Linked DNA regions of Homo sapiens. The protein of the gene in region 1 purifies or fractionates together with the protein of each later gene. This does not show direct contact. Each region holds a gene or a part of one and is shown in the gene's direction. Other genes may lie near its edges.

What was found.
Region 2: the proteins of CCDC127 (region 1) and VPS33A purify together in Homo sapiens (co-immunoprecipitation; 2 studies listed by BioGRID and IntAct, with this or other methods). This does not show direct contact.

The regions. Positions count from the first base shown.
Region 1 is NC_000005.10:208,101-215,638, reverse strand, and holds part of CCDC127 (coiled-coil domain-containing protein 127), read left to right. Parts: intron 1-7,538.
Region 2 is NC_000012.12:122,249,001-122,256,538, reverse strand, and holds part of VPS33A (vacuolar protein sorting-associated protein 33A), read left to right. Parts: intron 1-2,995; coding exon of another isoform or gene 2,996-3,073; exon of another isoform or gene 3,074-3,677; intron 3,678-5,439; coding exon 5,440-5,556; intron 5,557-6,493; coding exon 6,494-6,668; intron 6,669-7,538.

The DNA.
Region 1 (7,538 bases):
TGCTTCTTGGTGAAAGACAGGGCAGGTCCACATCCAATCCTAAGGGGCTGCCATGTAAAAAGCTCATCCGCCTGCAGGCTTGGGAAAAAAAACCCTTAACACTTGGAGAGGCTACTGTTGCCTGTGGCTAGGGTGAGTGGATTGGAAGGCTTAAAATTACTCTGACTAATGTAATAATTAATTGGCTTTGAGGCTGGGAGAGGCCCTGAAGTGACTCATTTTCCATTTGTTTTTCAGACTCATCTCCAGCTTTTATAGCCTTTCATGATAACTTTCACTTTTGAAATTCTTACCTTCCCTTCTTGGACTTTTGAAATGATGCTTTCTGTCCCTGAAAAGGGTTGAAGAATATTTTTTTCTTCCTGGTTTTTTGCTGAGGTAGTGTGGTCAGAGAGAACTGTTAAGTTGGTGTTCTTGTAAGGATTCTCCAAAGGTGTGTTACGATGTGTTTGAGGTTCTGTTGCACATAGGAGCGTTAACCAGCCCCTAGTGTAGTCTAGAAGAAGAGGCAGACATATGAATACTTGATAAGCGCTATTGGTTGATTTATTGATGAGAGGCTAGTTTTGTCCTGATCACTCGCTTCATTTACTAGAATTTTTTTTTTTTTTCGAGACGGAGTCTTGCCCTGTCGCCAGGCTGGAGTGCAGTGGCGCGATCTCGGCTTGCTGCAACCTCTGACTCCCTGGTTCTAGTGATTCTCCTGCCTCAGCCTCCCGAGTAGCTGGGATTACAGGCGCCCCTCACCACGTCCAGCTAATTTTTGTATTTTTAGTAGAGACGGGGTTTCACCACATTGGCCAGGATGGTCTCGATCTCCTGACCTCATGATCTGCCCGCCTCGGCCTCCCAAAGTGCTGGGGTTACAGGTGTGAGCCACCGTGCCCAGCCCATTTACTAGATTTTTACTTAACATAACATAGAAATGTGTGTAATTGTGCTTGCCCGAAAGAGCAGTCCCTGGAGAAATTCTTACCCTGAGTAGCTCCCAGGGGAGAATATTCAGTATTTCAGCACTCCAGAGGGCTTCTCTCTCTTCACACCTCCTCTGTCATTCTGCTTCCCCCCTTTTCTCTCAGTCTTCTTGATTGCCCTTTCCCCATCTCTCTCTCCGTGCTTTTCCCATCTCTCCGTGCTTTCTCCCCTCTAGTGTTCCTGTACCTCCTGTTTCCTCCCCTGACCCAGAAAACATAGTTTTAGAGCTGAAAGGGACTGGTTGAGTTCACTGGGCCCAACTCAGTTTCTTTTAATTAAATATTTTATTTTGGGGTCATGTAAATCACATGCAGTTGTCATCAGTAATGCAGAGAGCCCGTGTACCCTCTACCCAGCTTTCCCCAGTGGAAGCATCTGCAAAACGATAGTGCAGTGTCACAGCCAAGACATCTGCCAGGATGCGGTCAAGATACCCCAATCCCTGGGGCCTCACGTGCTGCCCTGTGTACCGCCCCTCCCTCCATAGCCCCCGGCAGCTACTGATCTGTTCTTCATCTCCAGAACTTTGTCATTTCAAGAATGTTATGTAAATGGAATCAAACAGTATATAACCTTTCGGGTTGACTTTTTTCATTCAGCATAACCCCCTGAGGTCCATGCAGATTGTTGCTGTATCAGTAGTTCATAGATAGTTTCATTGCTGAGTCGTGTTTTATGACATGGACGTACCACAGTGTGTTTAACCACTGAAAGACATCTGGGTCCTTTCCAGTTTTCAGCTGTTATGAATAAAGCTCTTATAAACATTCTTGTGTAGGTTTTTGTGTCGATGTAAGTTTTCATTTCTCTCGGATAAAGGGCCAGAAGTGAAATTACTGGGTTTTATGGAGGTTGCACGTTTAGTTTTTTAAGAAGGGCTGAAATGTTTCCCGAGTTGCTGCACCGTTTTAGGTTCTCACCAGCAATGCAGAGCTGATCGGTTTCTCCACCTGGTCAGTATTTGGTGTTTCACTGCTGTCCCGTCTGCCCCATCCTGATGGGTGTGTGGTGCTGTCTCATCGTGGCTGCAGCGTGCAATGTCGAGCATCAGCGTGCTCACACTGCTGTCCCGTCTGCCCCATCCTGATGGGTGTGTGGTGCTGTCTCGTCGTGGCTGCAGTGTGCGATGTCGAGCATCAGCGTGCTCACACTGCTGTCCCGTCTGCCCCATCCTGATGGGTGTGTGGTGCTGTCTCGTCGTGGCTGCAGTGTGCGATGTCAAGCATCAGTGTGCTCACACTGCTGTCCAGTCTGCCCCATCATGATGGGTGTGTGGTGCTGTCTCGTCATGGCTGCAGTGTGCGATGTCGAGCATCAGCGTGCTCACACTGCTGTCCCGTCTGCCCCATCGTGATGGGTGTGTGGTGCTGTCTCGTCGTGGCTGCAGTGTGCGATGTCGAGCATCAGTGTGCTCACACTGCTGTCCCGTCTGCCCCATCCTGATGGGTGTGTGGTGCTGTCTCGTCGTGGCTGCAGTATTCGATGTCGAGCATCAGTGTGCTCACACTGCTGTCCCGTCTGCCCCATCGTGATGGGTGTGTGGTGCTGTCTCATCGTGGCTGCAGTGTGCGATGTCGAGCATCAGCGTGCTCACACTGCTGTCCCGTCTGCCCCATCCTGATGGGTGTGTGGTGCTGTCTCATCGTGGCTGCAGTGTGCGATGTCAAGCATCAGCGTGCTCACACTGCTGTCCCGTCTGCCCCATCCTGATGGGTGTGTGGTGCTGTCTCGTCGTGGCTGCAGTGTGCAATGTCGAGCATCTCAGCGTGCTCACATTGCTGTCCCGTCTGCCCCATCCTGATGGGTGTGTGGTGCTGTCTCATCGTGGCTGCAGTGTGCAATGTCGAGCATCTCAGCATGCTCACATTGCTGTCCCGTCTGCCCCATCCTGATGGGTGTGTGGTGCTGTCTCATCGTGGCTGCAGTGTGCGATGTCGAGCATCAGCGTGCTCACACTGCTGTCCCGTCTGCCCCATCCTGATGGGTGTGTGGTGCTGTCTCATCGTGGCTGCAGTGTGCGATGTCAAGCATCAGCGTGCTCACACTGCTGTCCCGTCTGCCCCATCCTGATGGGTGTGTGGTGCTGTCTCGTCGTGGCTGCAGTGTGCAATGTCGAGCATCTCAGCGTGCTCACATTGCTGTCCCGTCTGCCCCATCCTGATGGGTGTGTGGTGCTGTCTCATCGTGGCTGCAGTGTGCAATGTCGAGCATCTCAGCGTGCTCACATTGCTGTCCAGTCTGCCCCATCATGATGGGTGTGTGGTGCTGTCTCGTCATGGCTGCAGTGTGCGATGTCGAGCATCAGCGTGCTCACATTGCTGTCCCGTCTGCCCCATCGTGATGGGTGTGTGGTGCTGTCTCATCGTGGCTGCAGTATTCGATGTCGAGCATCAGCGTGCTCACACTGCTGTCCCGTCTGCCCCATCGTGATGGGTGTGTGGTGCTGTCTCATCGTGGCTGCAGTGTGTGATGTCGAGCATCAGCGTGCTCACACTGCTGTCCCGTCTGCCCCATCCTGATGGGTGTGTGGTGCTGTCTCATCGTGGCTGCAGTGTGCGATGTCGAGCATCAGCGTGCTCACATTGCTGTCCCGTCTGCCCCATCCTGATGGGTGTGTGGTGCTGTCTCGTCGTGGCTGCAGTGTGCGATGTCGAGCATCAGTGTGCTCACACTGCTGTCCCGTCTGCCCCATCCTGATGGGTGTGTGGTGCTGTCTCGTCGTGGCTGCAGTGTGCGATGTCGAGCATCAGTGTGCTCACACTGCTGTCCCGTCTGCCCCATCCTGATGGGTGTGTGGTGCTGTCTCGTCGTGGCTGCAGTGTGCGATGTCGAGCATCTCAGCGTGCTCACATTGCTGTCCCGTCTGCCCCATCCTGATGGGTGTGTGGTGCTGTCTCATCGTGGCTGCAGTGTGCGATGTCGAGCATCAGCGTGCTCACACTGCTGTCCCGTCTGCCCCATCCTGATGGGTGTGTGGTGCTGTCTCGTCGTGGCTGCAGTGTGCGATGTCGAGCATCAGTGTGCTCACACTGCTGTCCCGTCTGCCCCATCCTGATGGGTGTGTGGTGCTGTCTCGTCGTGGCTGCAGTGTGCGATGTCGAGCATCAGTGTGCTCACACTGCTGTCCCGTCTGCCCCATCCTGATGGGTGTGTGGTGCTGTCTCGTCGTGGCTGCAGTGTGCAATGTCGAGCATCTCAGCGTGCTCACATTGCTGTCCCGTCTGCCCCATCCTGATGGGTGTGTGGTGCTGTCTCATTGTGGCTGCAGTGTGCGATGTCGAGCATCAGCGTGCTCACACTGCTGTCCCGTCTGCCCCATCCTGATGGGTGTGTGGTGCTGTCTCGTCGTGGCTGCAGTGTGCGATGTCGAGCATCAGTGTGCTCACACTGCTGTCCAGTCTGCCCCATCATGATGGGTGTGTGGTGCTGTCTCGTCATGGCTGCAGTGTGCGATGTCGAGCATCAGCGTGCTCACACTGCTGTCCCGTCTGCCCCATCGTGATGGGTGTGTGGTGCTGTCTCATCGTGGCTGCAGTATTCGATGTCGAGCATCAGCGTGCTCACACTGCTGTCCCGTCTGCCCCATCGTGATGGGTGTGTGGTGCTGTCTCATCGTGGCTGCAGTGTGTGATGTCGAGCATCAGCGTGCTCACACTGCTGTCCCGTCTGCCCCATCCTGATGGGTGTGTGGTGCTGTCTCATCGTGGCTGCAGTGTGCGATGTCGAGCATCAGCGTGCTCACAGTGCTGTCCCGTCTGCCCCATCCTGATGGGTGTGTGGTGCTGTCTCGTCGTGGCTGCAGTGTGCGATGTCGAGCATCAGTGTGCTCACACTGCTGTCCCGTCTGCCCCATCCTGATGGGTGTGTGGTGCTGTCTCGTCGTGGCTGCAGTGTGCAATGTCGAGCATCTCAGCGTGCTCACATTGCTGTCCCGTCTGCCCCATCCTGATGGGTGTGTGGTGCTGTCTCATCGTGGCTGCAGTGTGCGATGTCGAGCATCAGCGTGCTCACACTGCTGTCCCGTCTGCCCCATCCTGATGGGTGTGTGGTGCTGTCTCATCGTGGCTCTACTGTGCAGTGTTGAGCATCTTTTCTCATCGTGGCTCCAGGGTGTGATGTCGAGCACCTCTTCACGTGCTCATTGCCATCAGCGTATCCTCCTGATGAAATGAGTATTCTTGCCTTTCAGCCGTTTCCTAATAGGACTGTTTGTTTTTTAATGTTGAGTTTTGAGAGTTGTTAATATGTCTTAGATTCTAGTCCTTAGTTGCATATGTGGCTTGCAAGTATCCTCTCCCAGTCTGTAGCCTGTCTTTTCATTCTCTTCATAGGGGCATTTGCAGTGTAAAAGTTGTAATTTTGATGAAGGGCAGCTTATCATCGTTTCCTTTTATGAACCATGCTTTTTGTGGAAAGTCTAAGAATTCTGCCTAGCTCTAGATCCTGAAGGTTTTTTCTTCCTAAAGTTTTAGTTTTACATTTTACATTTAAGCCCTTACCCATTTGAGTTAATTTTGTTAATAAGGAGTAAGACTTTAGTTGTATTTCTTCTTTCCAGCCTGTTTGCCTTTGATTTCTTGTCTTGCCTTCCGGCACTAGCTGGAGCTTCTGGGACTCTGTTGGACGGTCCCTGACCTGAGAGAGAACACACTCAGCCTCTCCCAGCTAAGTACAGTGTCAGCTGCAGGTTTTCCGTAGATGCTGTTTATCAAGTCAAGGAAGCTCCCCTGTATTCCTGTTTTTCATGAATAGGTGTTGAATTTGGTCCGTTTTTTTTTGGTTTCAATTGATGGAATCGTGATTTTTCTTCATCAGCTTAGTAATGTGTTAGATTGCATTGATTTTTGAATATTGAACCCGTCTTTTGTCTCTGGAGCAATCCCCACGTGGCCGTGCTGTAGAATTAGTTTTATGTATTATGGAATGATGTTTGTGACCAGGCTGCAAAGGATTGTTTCTGTGTTTGTGGGGGAGTCCTATGTGTTGTGGAATGATGTGTGTGGCCAGGCTGCGAAGGGTTGTTTCTGTGTTTGTGGGGGAGTCCTATGTGTTGTGGAATGATGTGTGTGGCCAGGCTGCGAAGGGTTGTTTCTGTGTTTGTGGGGGAGTCCTATGTGTTGTGGAATGATGTGTGTGGCCAGGCTGCGAAGGGTTGTTTCTGTGTTTGTGGGGGAGTCCTATGTGTTGTGGAATGATGTGTGTGGCCAGGCTGCGAAGGGTTGTTTCTGTGTTTGTGGGGGAGTCCTATGTGTTGTGGAATGATGTGTGTGGCCAGGCTGCGAAGGGTTGTTTCTGTGTTTGTGGGGGAGTCCTATGTGTTGTGGAATGATGTGTGTGGCCAGGCTGCGAAGGGTTGTTTCTGTGTTTGTGGGGGAGTCCTATGTGTTGTGGAATGATGTGTGTGGCCAGGCTGCGAAGGGTTGTTTCTGTGTTTGTGGGGGAGTCCTATGTGTTGTGGAATGATGTGTGTGGCCAGGCTGCGAAGGGTTGTTTCTGTGTTTGTGGGGGAGTCCTATGTGTTGTGGAATGATGTGTGTGGCCAGGCTGCGAAGGGTTGTTTCTGTGTTTGTGGGGGAGTCCTGATTCCGTCATTCCAGTTTTTCTTCGAGTTGTTCTGTTTTTCAGTTCCAGAATTTTCATTTGGTTCTTCTTTACGTCTTGTGTTTATTTTCTTAGGCTCTCTGTCATGGCAGCTGCTCTGAAGTCCTTGTCAGATGATACTGCCATCTCTCATCCAGGTCTTGGCATCTGTTGATCATCTTTGTTCATTTAGTGTGACCCGTCCTGGCCCTTGGTACTAGGAGTGATTTTCTGTTTGAACCTGCGCATTTGGGGCATTACGTGCTGAAACACTGGTTTTTATTTAAACCTTCGGTCTTAGCTGGCTTTCTTGAATGGCGCCCTGGCAGGGGAAGGGCCACGCAGCCTCCTTACTGCCAGGTGAGGATGGAAGTCCAGGCTCCCCACTCAGCCTCTGGCCCCCATGGGCCCCCGAGGAAAGGATGGGAGTTCCAGCCCCCCGGCCTCTACTGGTGCCCCCCGGCTGGGAAGGCCTCAGCACTGCTCCCCACATGGCTCCCCCCGACCCCACCCTGTGTTTGCTGCTGGGTGGGAGTGGGAGCCTCAGCTCCATCCAGCCTTTGCCCATGTGGGTGGAGGTGGGGCCGTAGTTTTTTCTGTGTTATTTGGCTGATGTAGAGTGATTACTGTCGGAACATTTTCTCTCTTGCCAGGCCTCTATCGTGGTCCTTTGGGCAGAGACAGCAGGCTTTGTTGGAGTTTCTTTTTTTGTCTGCACCCGTTGAGATTTCCAATTGACTGTGTCTTCAGCTCCAAGTATGGGATCTATGAGGCAAAATGAAAATCTAGAGGACTTGCCCCCGTGTTGTTCCTGGGGTCCCAAGGACCCAAGCCAGTCTGCCTTCTCTCCATCTTTCAGAGTCATCTTGTTTTACAGATGATGTCCAGGATTTTTAGTTTACTTAGAAGAAGAATAGGGAGGATGTCTACTCCGTCTTCCCAGAAGCAGGAGTCTCACCGGAAACTGAGGCTTTGAAAAGTTG
Region 2 (7,538 bases), on another chromosome or scaffold:
GCAGTGGCACAATCTCGTCTCACCGCAACTTCCACCTCCCCAGTTCAAGCAATTCTCCCGTCTTAGCTATCCGAGTAGCTGGGATTACAGGAACGCGCCACCACGCCAGGCTAATTTTTGTATTTGTAGTGGAGATGGGGTTTCACCATGTTGGCCAGGCTGGTCTCGAACTCCTGACCTCAAGAGATCTGCCTGCCTCAGCCTCCCAAACTGCTGGGACTGCAGGTGTGAGCCACTGTGCCTGGCCTTTTTTTCTTCTTACCAATAAAATACTTCGAAGGTAGAGACTAGAACTTTAGGGAACCGCTGGTATAGTACATAAAATTATTGGAATCTTTTTTTCCCCATTGTGTTGTTACAGAGATCACCTCGTTAAAAGAGTTAATTTGTTGACAGTTTTCACAAAAGGGGGAAAAATGAAACTTATTTAAAAAAATAAAATAGGCCAGGCACAGTGGTTCATGCCCGTAATCCCAGCACTTTGGGAGACCAAGGTGGGAGGATCACTTAAGGCCAGGAGTTCGAGACCAGCCTGGGCAACAGAGTGAGGCCCTGTCTTTACAAAAAACTAGCCACACGTGGTGATGTGCACCTGTCATTCCAGTAACTCAGGAGGCTGAGGCAGAAGGATCACTTGAGCCCAGGAGGTTGAGGCTGCAGGGCGCTGTGATCACACCAGTGCACTCCTGCCTGGGTGACAGAGTGAGACCCGGCCACAGAAAAAGCGAAAAATAAAAAAGTTAATCTGGGGCAGTAGAAGTCAGTGGCACCACCGACTAATCCTATAACCAGGGGACTTTCTTGGCTTTTTTTTTTTTTTTTTTTTTTTTTGAGACGGAGTCTCACTCTTGTTCCCCAGGCTGGAGTGCTGTGTGGCGCAATCTCGGCTCACTGCAACCTCCGCCTCCCAGGTTCAAGCGATTCTCCTGCCTCAGCCTCCCGAGTAGTTGGAATTACAGGTGCCCGCCACTGCACCTGGCTAATTTTTTGTATTTTTAGTAGAGACGGGGTTTCACCATGTTGGCCAGGCTGGTCTCGAACTCCTGACCTCATGATCTGCTCATCTCGGCCTCCCAGAGTGCTGGGATTACAGGCGTGGGCCATTGCGCCCAACCCTCTTGGCTCTTTTGTACCTTGTTCCCTAGTGGTTTGCTTACACGAAATCCTACCTGATGGTAATATAGATTTCCTTCTAACATTTTATAGGAAAATTTCAATATACCAAAAAATTGAATTGTACAGTGAACACCTGTCTATCCACCACTTATCTTCTGGATTAACAGTTTTCTATATGTGCTTTATCACATACCTGTGATGGTATACTCATTTTTAATTAATCCATATTTGTGTATTTAATGGGAATTGGTAGCAGCCGAAGCAAACTCTCTTGGAGTGACAAAATCTGTGCAGAGGAGAAATAACCTGTTTATTTTACTTATGATTTGTAAGAAAGGGCAGAACTATTTTCTTTTTTTTTTTTTTTTCCTTGAAACTGAGTTTCACTCTGCCGCCTAGGCTGGAGTGCGTTGGTGCCATCTCGTCTCATTGCAGCCTCCACCTCCTGGGTTCAAGTGATTCTCCTGCCTCAGCCTCCTGAGTAGCTGGGACTACAGGCGCCAGCCACCACACTGGCTAATTTTTTGTGTTTTTGGTAGAGACAGGGTTTCACCATGTGGCCCAAGCTGGTCTCGAACTCCTGACCTCAGGCGATCCACCGCCTCAGCCTCCCAAAGTGCTGGGATTACAGGCGTGAGCCACCGCGCCTGGCCAGAACTATTTTCTACTGACAATTTCAAGCCTTTGGCTTTGTATATTCACCTAAGATGCTGTTTTGGCCGGACATGGTGGCTCCTACCTGCCAGCACTTTGGGAGGCTGAGGTGGGCGGATCATCTATGGTCAGTAGTTCGAGACCAGGCTGGGCAACATAGCAAAACTCCATCTCTACTAAAAATAAAACAAAATTAAAATTAGCTGGGTGTGGTGGTGCATGCCTGTAATCCCAGCTACTTCGCAGACTGAGGCAGGAGAATCACTTGAGCCCAGGAGGCAGGGGTTGCAGTGAGCCAAGATTGCACCACTGTACTCCAGCCTGGGCAACAGAGCGAGAGCCTATCTCAAAAAAAAAAAAAAAGGCGGGGGGGTGGATTGGGGGAGTTAGAGGAAGTGGCAGAAAGAAAAAGAAAGGACTTTATCCGGATGGCACAGCTAAGAGCTTCGACCTAAGAGCCTAATGTTAAAGTCAGCCCCGATTTTTGGTGGAGATGACGTTAATCGTATTTCTGTGATTGGCTTCAGGAGGTACATCTAGATCTCTCTGTGTTTTGAGTTACAGTTGTGACCATCTATGTCATTGTTCTGTGTAAAATGTGGGAATTAGAGTTCTGCCCAGTCAAATGCTCAATAACATTGCTTAAGGTACTGTGGCCTTTACGCGTATATATAAAAATCAGCATATATAAAACCTGCCTCTTGTATGGTATTCTGCAAGGTATTCTGCTGTGTGGGTATGTGAGACTTTGGGGTTAAAAAAATGCGCATTTAAATGTTAAGGGTATTGGGCTGGGTGTGGTGGCACTTTGGGCGGCCAAGGCAGACGGATCACCTGAGGTTAGGGGTTCGAGACCAGCCTCGGCAACGTGGTGAAACCCCATCTCTATTAAAAACACAAAAACTTAGCCAGGCATGGTGGTGGGCACCTATGATCCCAGCTACTCAGGAGGCTGAGGCAGGAGAATCACTTGAACTCGGGAGGTGTAGGTTGCAGTGAGCTGAGGTTGCCCGACTGCACTCCAGCCTGGGTGATAGAGCAAGACTCTGTCTCAAAAAAGGAAAAACAACCAAGATTAAAATCTGTTGTTAACTTTTACATCTTTTAAAAAATATTGTAAAAGAGATGTCTTTGTAGTAGTACAACTTAAAAAAATTAAGTAAAATATGAATGCTATTTGGAGAGGAGTTCCTTAATGTCTTTTTTTTTTTTTTTTTTGAGACAGTCTTGCTCTGTTGCCCCGGCTGGAGTGCAGTGGCACAATCTCAGCTCACTGCAACCTCCACCTCCTGAGTTCAAGTGATTCTGCTGCCTCAGTCACCTGAGTAGCTGGGATTACAGGCACATGCCACCACACCTGGCTAATTTTTGTATTTTTAGTAGAGAAGGGGTTTCACCATTTTGGTCAGGCTGGTCTAGAACTCCCGACCTCATGATCCTCCCCGCTCAGCCTCCCAAAGTGCTGGGATTACAGGCGTGAGCCACCGCACCCAGCCCTCAATGTCTTTTGCCCTTGAACGTTCATCTGATCTGGAGTTTTAAGTGGTTTTGCCAAAAAGCGTGTCTTTTGACATATTCTCGATGGTCTGCCATATTCAGGGAAACGTTAAAATATACCACACTTGAAAGAGTAGTCCGGCGACACTCTCAATAATAACCAAACGCTCCCCACCATGTCTGCCATCCTTCCTCCCTGGGGCAGAGGGCCTGACAAGTGACAACCCCGCTCTCTCTTCCTCAGGCCCTGGACCCTCAGGGCCCCCTCAGTTCTGGCTGTGGACAGCAGGGACATGTTGGGTTGGTAGGGGTGGAGGGAATTGATAAAATGTACCATATTGACTTATGAGTGGATAATGGTTGTAAAAAAACCTAAATAATTCCAAATAAAAGCTAACTGTTACTGAGCATTTGCTGTATGTTTCAGGTACTGGGATTAAATGCTTTACATGTATTTTTCTCATTTAATACTTGCCCTATGTGGACTATACTCCCTTCTACATATGAATAAATTGAGGCACAAAGAGATTCTCTAACTGGCCCAGGGCACAGCTAGTAAGTGACACAGTTGGATTCAGAACAAGGCAATCTGAGTCTAGAACCTGTGTTTTGATCCACCTGTATCAAAAGTGACTGCTTCCCTCCTCTCACCTCACAGGTGGTTTTTTTCTCTCTCTCTTTTTTTTTTAAAGAGATGGGGTCGGCTGGGCGCGGTGGCTCACGCCTGTAATCCCAGCACTTTGGGAGGCCGAGGTGGGCGGATCACGAGGTCAGGAGATCGAGACCATCAGGGCTAACATGGTGAAACCCCGTCTCTACTAAGAAATACAAAAAAATTAGCCAGGCGTGGTGGCGGGCGCCTGTAGTCCCAGCTACTTGGGAGGCTGAGGCAGGAGAATGGTGTGAACCCAGTAGGTGGAGCTTGCAGTGAGCCGAGATCGCGCCACTGCACTCCAGCCAGGGCGACAGAGCGAGACTCCATCTCAAAAAAAAAATAAAAATAAAAATAAAAAAAGAGATGGGGTCTTGCTCTGTTGCCCAGAGGGGAGTGTGGCGGTGCGAACATAGCTCATTGCAGCCTCAAATCCCTGGGCTCCGGTGATCCTCCTGCCTTACCCTCCTGAGTAGCTCAGATACAGATGCATGCTACTATCCCTGGCTAATTATTTAATTTTTTATAGATACAGGGTCTCACTATGTTGCCCAGTCTGGTCTCAAACTCAAGAGCTCAAGCAATCCTCCTATCTCAGCCTCCCAAAGTGCTGTGATTACAGCCATGAGCCACTGCACCTAGCCTTCCCAGGTGGTTTTGTGTGTATTTTGGAGATTCTTTTTTCTTTTTTTTTTTTTTATACTTTAAGTTCTAGGGTACATGTGCACAACATGCAGGTTTGTTACATATGTATACATGTGCCATGTTGGTGTGCTGCACCCATTAACTCATCATTTACATTAGGTATATCTCCTAATGCTATCCCTCCCCCCTTCCCCCACCCCACGACAGGCCCTGGTGTGTGATGTTCCCCTTCCTGTGTCCAAGTGTTCTCATTGTTCAATTCCCACCTATGAGTGAGAACATGCGGTGTTTGTTTTTTTGTCCTTGTGATAGTTTGCTGAGTTGGAGGTCCTTTTTTCAATGCAAAAATATATATTTTTTATAAAATGAGATCATACTCAACAGATTGTGGCCTTCAGTTGTCAGTTGTCATGAAAATCTGCCTCATCCTTTTTGAAAACAATAAAGTATTCGTCCTGTGGTCTTTTGCATTTCTGGGTATTAGCATGTCGCTCTCCCAGCATGTCCTACCAGAGTTTACTCTCACCAGTGAATGGGAACCCATCGTTCAGTGTAAGTCTGTATTCTTCCGTCTTTTATTTAAGAGCTGATTCAGAAGAGCTGGCATGCTGGGTGAACAGTTTTCTCCCAGAAGCCCCGGCTCTGCCCAGGAGAGGTGCTTCCACGGCTGCACCCACCCTGGGGCTGCCAGCCTCAGCGCCTGGTCTGACAGGCAGCAGTTTTGGAAAATGAACTTGAGTCCCCAATTTTCCTGGCACAGTGTGAAATAACTGGAAATGATTTTATTGTCTGTCGCTGCACCCCAGCCCCAGGAACAGAGATGGGCCCCTGGGAGGCCCCCATGGCCTGGCAATAATTGGCCTTTTCCCTCACAGGAGTGCTACCTGGAGGGTGACCAGACGAGCCTGTACCACGCAGCCAAGGGGCTGATGACCCTGCAAGCTCTGTATGGAACGATCCCCCAGATCTTTGGGAAAGGAGAATGCGCTCGGGTGAGAACCGGCTGCTTTGTGGTGGTAAAGGAGGGCCCTTCACACCCCAAAAGGGAGGAGGAACGGGAAGCTCCTTACAAACAAATTCAGTTGATCTTAATTATTTATGAATACTGTACTCATGAATTTGCCTACTGATTAAAATGCACTTATAACCCTCCAAGTCAGTACTCATGGTGCTTTTGTCGGCGTGCACAGTGGTGACAGTTTGAGTAACCACTGCGCATGTTCCCAACTGAGGCAGCTGACACTCCACCTTCCCATTTCAGCTCTCAGACTGCAAACAAGTGTACTTTTCACAGTCTCACTGTCATATTTTCCACACGTGTGTACTTTTTTTGGTGATTTCACTGTTTAAAATGGCCTGCAAATGTAGGACTGAGGTGCAGTCGGGTGTCTTGTGCACAAGAAGGCTGTGGTGTGCCTGGCGGAGACATTACGTGTGTCAGAGACGCTTCGTTCAGGCACGAGTCACAGAGCTGCTGGCTGTCAGTTCAGTGTGAGTGATCAACAATTATGTTAAGTCAGGCATCTTTAAGCAGAAACACATATAAAACTGGGTTACGTATTGATCAATTGACAGAAACGTTGAGACCAGAGGCTCCCAGGAACCTAAGTCTGCGTTTCTCCTAGGAACAGTGGTTCCATCTTCGCTAATTTAGTGTTTGCAGTGACTTCATAGAACATAACTACTGCGAATCACAAGAATAGACTGACCTGATTTTATGCCTCATTGGCAAATGGCAGCTGCCTTGGTGCAAGTGTCGGGATGGGTGCCAACAGCAAGGTGCTTTTCTAGAGCTGCTTATTTCTAAGCAATGCACTCTTCCAGTTTTTCTCCTTTTTTACTTTTTTGATTGTCTTTCTGGTTTTAGACAAATTTTAAAATCTGCTTGTTCCCAGGGGGGCCCCACCTCATCCAATGTTTTGTTTCCAGCAAGTGGCCAATATGATGATCAGGATGAAGAGAGAGTTTACAGGAAGCCAGAATTCAATATTTCCTGTTTTTGATAATCTCTTGTTGCTTGATCGGAATGTGGATTTATTAACACCTCTTGCCACTCAGCTGACATATGAAGGACTCATTGATGAAATTTATGGCATTCAGAACAGTAAGTACATGACATCTGTTTTCACTAATAGGTAATATGAGAAGAATATCCTTTGTGGAGGCTACTGTTTGTATATTGCACACTTAAGCATAATTTAAAGTCAGAGATCCGATTTTAATGATTCAGAGTGTAGATTAATACAGACCTTTTTGTAAGCAATTTAGCAACACATAAAACTTTTCTAACCCTTGGCCAAAGAAAACCCAAAGCCTAAGAATGTGCCTTGAGGAATCATTCCAAAAAAGAGGATCAGTGAGGTTTGCATAAGAATTTCGATTTCCATTTTCTTACCAGAATTTTCCAAACAATCTCAGTGGTTGAGTACATTATGAAATATTATGGAACCACCTGGGTGTGGTGGCTCACACTTGTAATTCCAGCTCTTTGGGAAGCCAAGGCGGGCAGATCACTTGAGGTCAGGTGTTCAAGACCAGTCTGGCAAACATGGTGAGATGCCCGTCTCTACTAAAAATACAAAAAATTAGCTGAGTGTGGTGGCACATGCCTGTAGCCCCAGCTACTTGGGAGGCTGATATGGAGGAATTGCTTGAACCCGGGAGGAGGAGGTTGCAGTGAGCCGAGAGAGCGCCACTGCACTCCAGCCTGGCGACAGAGTGAGACTGTCTCAAAAAAAAAGAAAATATTTGGAACCATCAAAATAATAAATGTGGAACATGAAAAACTGCGTAGCCATGCCTATTTCAATTAGAGGTTGTTATATATGTGTCTGCATATGTATGTGTATTCCAAACTATATTTATAATATATTTATAAAAAATAACTAAGAATACCGTAAAAACTGGAAATAACTGGAGGTGGAATAATCAGACCATGCCTCCAAAGGGTCAGTTTTTAGAAAGCTGCTTCCTT